2 linked regions of the Homo sapiens genome follow. The protein of the gene in region 1 purifies or fractionates together with the protein of each later gene. This does not show direct contact. Each region holds a gene or a part of one and is shown on either strand. Other genes may lie near its edges.

Region 1 (3,750 bases):
CACTCCTCCCTTCCCCTCGCTCCGTTTCCCTCACGCCCTCATCCCCCAGCCCCCTCGTCCCCTTTCCTTCTCTGCCGAGCATGGGACTCAGGAAACCGGGATTTGCAGGATGCTCAGTTCTAGGGGCACCTTGGCTTGTGGGACCCTGTGTCTACTGTCTCTGTCCACTGCCCCCAAAGTCTCCCTCTGCCAAGTTAGCAGCCACATTATCCCATTCCACTGATCAGGAAACAGAAGGTCAGGGCAGCCCAGGGCCCTTCCCAGGTAGGAGGAGGAGGAGCCAGCACTTGCACAGATCTTGTGTCTGGAAAGGGGAAGCGGGACAGCAGGAGGCTCCAGGGAGTAACCTGAGGAAGCTGCCTTGGGTGTGTCTTGGTGCCATGCCTTAGGCGGCCACCAGGTGGCGCCAAACCCACACGCCCCCGTTCCAGGTGTGCTGAGCTGCACCGCCCCAGCCGTGCACCTACTGCGTGCAGAGGGTGCAGAGCGCGGCCGGTGCTCACCCGCAGCGGACAGGATGGGGGCGTGTTCCCCAGCTGATGCCGTCTGGGCCAGACTCAGATGAGAGGCCTTGCTTGCCTGATGGCCCTAACTTCTCCAGCAAGCTGGGGGCCGCGGTATCTCCTTGGCTGCATGTCCCATGCTCTGCCTGCCAAGGGACTAGGGAAGAAGCCTCAGGAAGGTAGACAGATGCACCCCCTATGTCTGCAGCACAGTCTCCATCCCCCCGGGCTCAGGCCAGACTGCTAGCTCCTGCCTTCCCTTGGCCCCAGACCCTCGCAGTCCCGCTCCTCAGCCTCTCCCCACCAATCTCCAGCAGATGTCCACCCCCAATGCCCTCTGCAGCCTCCCACCCCGCAGCCCCTGCTGAGGTCAGTCAGCCTGGGCCCTGCCATGCCTCAAAAACCATCCCATGGAGTACCTTGTGGCCAAACCCACCTGCCCCGCCTCTGACCCCACCTGTCCTGGCTCTGACCCCACCTGCCCCGTCGCTGACCACACCCAATGCAGAGCGTCCCTGGCACCTCTCTGGCCCCAAACGCCTGTTGTTACATGGTGGTCCCACAGCCAGGTTCTGCTTTTTCCCCACCCCTGAGCATCAGTTCCTGTCCTGGGTTCCTTGTGAGCTCAAGTAAGGGCTGAATGGATGAGCCCTGCCTGCACTCCTGGGGTTGTGAGCAGCCGGCTGAGTGTGGGGGTTCCCCCCTGGAGATGCCCCTTGACATGGGGAACCCTAGCCATCTGGGGTTCCTATGAACCTCCCAGCTCCCACAGTGGCCTCGGCTTTCATCTGTCCTCATGGCTCAGGGGTCAGAACCACCCTCGGCCCCCCATGCCATCATCTCTGCATTTATTGGATGCAACGCCATGGTGAGCACAGGGCAGGCGTGTCTGCACCACCTTGCAGGCCCTTGCTCACTGTGAGGGGTCAGTAGCTCTGTCTCACCCATGAGGAAACAGGCTCAAAGGGACCATGGCTACTCCAGGCCATGCCGGGGCTGAGACAGACCCCTCCAGCCAGCTCCACAGCCCAGCAGCTGCCCTCCCTGCTGGCTGCCACCTCTAGCACTGTCCTGGCATAAGCATGCCACCATGTCCCTGGGGCCTGGGCAGGGGGCGTGGGTGGCTTTCAGCTGCAGCAGCTCCATTTCTCTGCAGAGGTCTGGCCCAGACCAGCGGCTTCGCAAGGCCAGCGACCAGCCCTCCGGCCACAGCCAGGCCACGGAGAGCAGCGGATCCACGCCTGAGTCCTGCCCAGAGCTCTCAGACGAGGAGCAGGATGGTGACTTTGTCCCTGGTGAGCCCCCTTGGGCCCAGCCCCAAGGCCTCTGTCTGGTGGGGTGCCTCAGATGCTGACCTGGCTGGAGGGGAGGCCAGAGAAGCACCTGCCCAGATGTAGGGCAACCTCCCAGCAAAAGCTCCTCTGCTGCCCTGAGGGGCCCCCCAGCAGGCTCTGCCCTCTCAGAGTCTGGGAGGCAGCCCAAGGGCCAACGGGGGGAATGGTGGGGGTGGGGAAGAAAGGGAGTGGGCCCAGGCCAGGGGCTCCCCAGCGGTGGGAGGGGCAGGTCCAGTGGCATCCTGCCCCAGCCCTCTGCTCCTTTCCTGTCACCAGGAGCTGTGTCTCCCCAACTTTGTCCCTGCCTCTGTAATGGATGGGCCTTGCCTTGGCCACTTCTGCCTCCCAGGCCTGTTAGTGGCTGGTCCAGCCTGGGGGTTCCCTCCAGAAACATCCTCAGCACCCCTCCCTCATCTCCGTGTCTTCAGCTTGGCCCTGCAGGTTTCCCATGAGGTGGGGTGGAGGCCCGAGCTGGATATGACCCTGTGACCCACGTGCCAGCCCCACTGGACCTCCAGCTCATCCTCACTCCTCCCCTCCCCTCCTTTGTCTCACTCGGGGCCGTCCCAGGCGGTGAGAGCCCATGCCCTCGGTGCAGGAAGGAGGCGCGGCGGCTGCAGGCCCTGCACGAGGCCATCCTCTCCATCCGAGAGGCCCAGCAGGAGCTGCACAGGTGGGCCACACTCAGGGTGTCCATCCAGACTCCGGGTCAGAGAGTGCGAGAGACCTGGTAGAGCTAGGGCGGGAGGTGGGGAGGCCAGGAGGCCGCGGCTGGGGTTGTCATCGGAGCTGGAACCCACAAGACCTGCAGGGTGATGAAAGGAAGACAACCGCCGAGGGCAGGAGAGAGGGTGTGGGAGCGGCAGGTGGTGCGGGATGATCAACCAGCCAAGTTGGCCATGCCTGGCAGATACTGAGCTGGAGATGTCCTGAAGCCTAGAGGAAGGTGCCAGCCCAGCATGGCCTGGGGTAGCCCCAGGAGAGACCTTGAGGTGTGCAGAGCGAGGTGGCAGCCTGGGCTCACTGTGGTGGCCCCATACCTGCGCACAGTGGCTTCTCAGGAATGGCTGGGGAAGGAGCAAATGGGAGTGGCCGAGAGCTGGCAGGTGCAGGCCACCAGGGCCACATGGCCCCTTCCTGTCAGCAGATCCCACCAATGAGGAGCAGAGCACAGGGTCCCTCTCGGGTCCAAAGCTCCTGACTCTGAGCCAGGCTGAGGGTCTCACTGGCTGTGGGACCTTGGCTGTCACACCTCAGCCTCCCCTCTGTAAAGTGGGCTTGATAGCAGTACCCCAGGGTGAAATGCAGCCAGGGCACAGGCCCGGGCTCTGTGAGGCTCAAGAGCCTTGGGGAACTGTCATTGTCCCTGTGTAAGCATTTCCAGAAGGTGCTCCCTGGTGAGGCTGTGTGGGCAGAGAAGCAGGGAGGCCTGGCTCCCCAGAAGCAGGTCAGCTGTCAGGCAGGTGGCCAGGACTCAGCCAGAAGCTTCTGCAGCAAACTGGATACCGCCTCAGAGGCCAGGTCCTCCACGGCAAAGTACTCCAGCTCAGGGCCAGGGCCTCCACAGCAGAGTACTGCCGGCAAGGGGCTCGGACAGCGCGTCTACTCCCTCGCGGTCCCGGAGGCTGGAGTCCAAGATCTCGGTGCCACAGGGCTGGTTTATCCCGAGACCTCTCTCCTGCCTGGCAGACGCCAGCTTCTCGCTGTGTCTGTGTCTTCATCTCTTCTTCATATAAGGACACCAGTCCCATGGGACCAGGGCCCACCCTAATGGTCTCCATTTAAATAAATACCTCTTTAAGGACCCCATCTCCAAATACAGTCTTATCTAAGGTGCAAGGGGTTAGGACTCCAACATATGAAGGTGGCAGAGGCATGACTCAGCCATAACCACAGGGGTGGGAGGGAGGATG
Region 2 (3,750 bases), on another chromosome or scaffold:
TGAACCCGGAAGGCAGAGCTTGCAGTGAGCAAAGATTGCACCACTGCACTCCAGCCTGGGCAATAGAGCAAGACTCTGTCTCCAAAAAAAAAAAAAATTAGAACTTGCCAGATTTTATTATTTTTTTCCCAAAGGAAAGCAATCATTTCTATAGGCAACATCCTAGAAAGTAGTTCTATGTGTTACATTAAAAAATAGCAGTAGAAGCAGGGTGCGGTGGCTCACGCCTGTGATCCCAGCACTTTAGGAGGCCGAGGCAGATGGATCACGAGGTCAGGAGTTCATGACCAGCCTGGCCAAGATGGTGAAACCCCATCTCTACTAAAAATACGAAAATTAGCTGGGCGTGGTGGCGGGTGCCTGTAATCCCAGCTACTCGGGAGGCTGAGGCAGAGAATTGCTTGAACCTGGGAGGCGGAGGTTGTAGTGAGCCGAGCTTGTGCCACTACTCCAGCCTGGGTGACAGAGCTCCTTCTCAAAAAAAGAAAAAAAGAAAAAAAATAGCAGTAGATGCCGATGGGAACATAAGATGATATAGCCATTCCAATATGTAATACTTCTTGACCCAGGAGTTACATGTGTAAGAATCCATCCTAGGGAAAAACTCAGCCATGTACAGAGTTGATAGGCAAGGATGTCCACTGAAGACTTACAGAAATTAAATGTCATAACCTAAGTCAGGCGCAGTGGCTCACCCCTGAAATCCCAGCACTTTAGGAGGCCGAGGGGGGTGGGTCATTTGAGGTCAGGAGTTTGAGACCACCCTGGCCAACATAGTGAAACCCCGTCTCTATTAAAACATACAAAAATTAGCCAGCACTGTGGCACACGCCTGTAATCCCTGCTACTCAGGAGGCTGAAGCAGGAGAATTGCTGGAACCCGGGAGGTGGAGGTTGCTGTGAGCCGATATTGCATCACTGCACTCCAGTCTGGGCGACAGAGCAAGACTCCATCTCAAAAAATAAAAAAATACAAAAAATAAATAAATAAAACAGGTTGCTTTCAGAAATTATATAATATGAAAACTAGTGTGTCTTGGAATCAAGCAAATATGGTATATGTGTGTATCTGTCTGTGTATAATCATATTGTAGATATAGTTTTTCCCATTCAGTATATCATGAACTCTTCCTATCTTTTTGAAAATTAACTTAAAGTGTCATTTTGACATCTTCAAAATATGCAGTTAATTGTATGTAAATTTCATAGATAAAATCCTGTTTTAAGACATTTAGGTTATGATTTTTTTTTTTTTTTTTTTTTTGAGATGGAGTCTCTCTCTGTTGTCCAGGCTGGAGTACAGTGGCACAATCACTTCTTACTGCAGCCTTGATCTCCTGGGCTCAAGTGATCCTCTTTCTTCAGCCTCCCAAGTAGCTGGGACTACAGGCACACACCACTGCATCCGGCTAATTTTTAATTTAATTAGTTTTTTTTAGAGATGGGGCTCTCACTATGTTGCCCAGGCTGGTCTTAAACTCCCGGCCTCAAGCAATCCTCCTACTTCAGCTTCCCAAAGTGGTGGGATTACAGACATAACCCACCACTCCCAGCCTAAAATTCTTGATAGTATATCTTTTTCTCCCAAAATCTGTTATTAAATCAATGCCATATCTTATAATAAACAGCATCTTTAAATGGGGCAATAAACCATATGCCCAGAAAAAGACTAGAATGATAAACAGCAGTATGTTAACAGTGGCTATCTCCAGTGATAGGATTATTTAGATAATTTTTGTTTTCTTTTTTAAACTTTTCTGTAGATTTCAGTTTTTCTATAATGAGCATATATAACTTTTAACATTAGAAATACACACAAAAAATCTTTTTTTCCTTTTCTTTAGGCCTTTGTACAACAATATCATTCTTTTAAGTAGTAGTAGAGCATAGTACTGTGCAGTTCCTTACATTAAGACGTTTGTAACTCGAGTCGATAACACTTTGGAGTTAGGTTTCAGGGTAACATGCTGCAAGTCAGAGACGGTAACTAGTGGATTCCGTGCTTTCGGCGATGGTATAAGCTTTAATTATAAAATGAGACATTATTAAAACAAATTTTAAAATATCACTCAAAATGTAAACATGCAAAAACGGCAAATATCTGAGTGCTGAGTTTGTGTAAGATATATCCAGTATGCTACCCAATTTTTATTCCAGAGCTTCAAAGGATGTCTCTACCTCTTCAGACTAAGGGTTGGGAGATAAAATTGCCTAATTAAATCATTTCCTAATATATACATTTTGTTGGGAAATCCAAAACTACTAAAATAAAAACATCAAAAACTTAACTTGAAATGAAATGACTTCTCCCTCCAGCACCCCCGACCCCAATTGTATACAAATTGAGATGAGGTCTTGCCATATTCCCCATGCTGGTCCTGAACTCCTGGGCTCAGGTGATCCTCCCACCTTGGTCTCCCAAAGTGCTGGGATTATAGGCATGAGCCTATATTGTTAAAAGCAAAAAGAGCATGTATGTGGTCAATGACATCTTACCTTCCTCTTTTCATCTAAACTCTGTGTCTTCTTTAATTTTACAGTCAGCAGATCTTTAACTGTTATCTGCATGGGTCCATCTTTTTTTAATGGTCCAGCCTTAAAATACATGGTAAGGTTAGAATTCAAATTGGAACCAGCACAACTGGTGAAATGCAAATCCAAATCTAGTTTTTAAAGACTCAGAGTTAAGAGGTAACTCTTATCTACCCTAGGAACCTGTCATATTCTTTCTACTCAACCAAGAATAATCGTATTTTTATCACCCATTGAAAAGCATTCATCAAAATGTAAGGCTTCCCCCACCCCGCAATTTTGTTTTTATAAGCTAAGACTTTGCTAACAAATAAGAGATGGACTAGTTTCCTGCAATATTGCATCTTCCCCGGGAGTCATTATAATAAGACAAGAGTTGAAGGAGTTAATCGGGTTAAAGTGAAGTTTTGCTTGAATTACCTAGAAAGATGACTCAGTTTCCACAGAACAAGAATGTATACAATCAGAGAGGTATAATTAGGGCAAATATAACAATAGGCTCCAGGTTTTGTTTTGTGTGTGTGTGTGTGTGTGTGTGTGTGTGTGTGTGTGAGGATTGGGAAGACTCTGGATTTAATTCAGCTACATTAAACCAAATTATCCATAGTGAAAATTCAGCAGATTTTAAAACAGGGTCATGCCTGTCTTAGTGATTCACAAATTGTCTGGTCCCCTTGGTAAATAAGTAACTGAAATAGAGATTGGTTCTCCAGCCTAATGATATGAAACTTTGGAATCCACTAACTCTTTGTTCTGACTTTACTCTCTAAGCAATCTTCTATTCTAAATTTGGTTTCCTAGGGAGGTTTTCTTCCCTAGGAAAAAGCCATGCTGAGAAGCGAATAGAAATCTTCCACTCTACTGGGTTTCACACACATCACTTTCATTTCTCAATCCAGCTTCTAGGAATTTCTCAGGAACTGAGATTTTAAAAACACAATAATTAAGATACGGAATCAGAACAAAATATAGCCTTCTGGCCCAAGCCCTGATTAGCCTGGCCTTAAAAGGCCACTTGGCTTTACTCCTATATTACACACTCACCAAAACATATCAAAACATATCATTACTAGATTGTTACCTACCTGAAGTGCTTTAGCGAGACTGGGTTTTCTGAGCAACACAGGTGCTAGTGGTGGTGGAGGAGGTGGCAGAGGTGGAGGTGGAGGAGGAGGAGGAAAATGGCTGGCTGGCTGTGGCAGTGTGGGAGGAAGCACA

Evidence for each region. Proteins that work in one complex are often made in the same cells at the same time.
Region 2: the proteins of OSBPL5 (region 1) and PRR11 purify together in Homo sapiens (co-immunoprecipitation; 3 studies listed by BioGRID and IntAct, with this or other methods). This does not show direct contact.

Annotation. Positions count from the first base shown.
Region 1 is NC_000011.10:3,088,606-3,092,355, reverse strand, and holds part of OSBPL5 (oxysterol-binding protein-related protein 5), read left to right. Parts: intron 1-1,659; coding exon 1,660-1,798; intron 1,799-2,407; coding exon 2,408-2,510; intron 2,511-3,750. UniProt on the Homo sapiens protein: Lipid transporter involved in lipid countertransport between the endoplasmic reticulum and the plasma membrane: specifically exchanges phosphatidylserine with phosphatidylinositol 4-phosphate (PI4P), delivering phosphatidylserine to the plasma membrane in exchange for PI4P, which is degraded by the SAC1/SACM1L phosphatase in the endoplasmic reticulum.
Region 2 is NC_000017.11:59,193,602-59,197,351, reverse strand, and holds part of PRR11 (proline-rich protein 11), read right to left. Parts: coding exon 3,618-3,750; intron 2,596-3,617; coding exon 2,497-2,595; intron 2,022-2,496; coding exon 1,909-2,021; intron 1-1,908. UniProt on the Homo sapiens protein: Plays a critical role in cell cycle progression.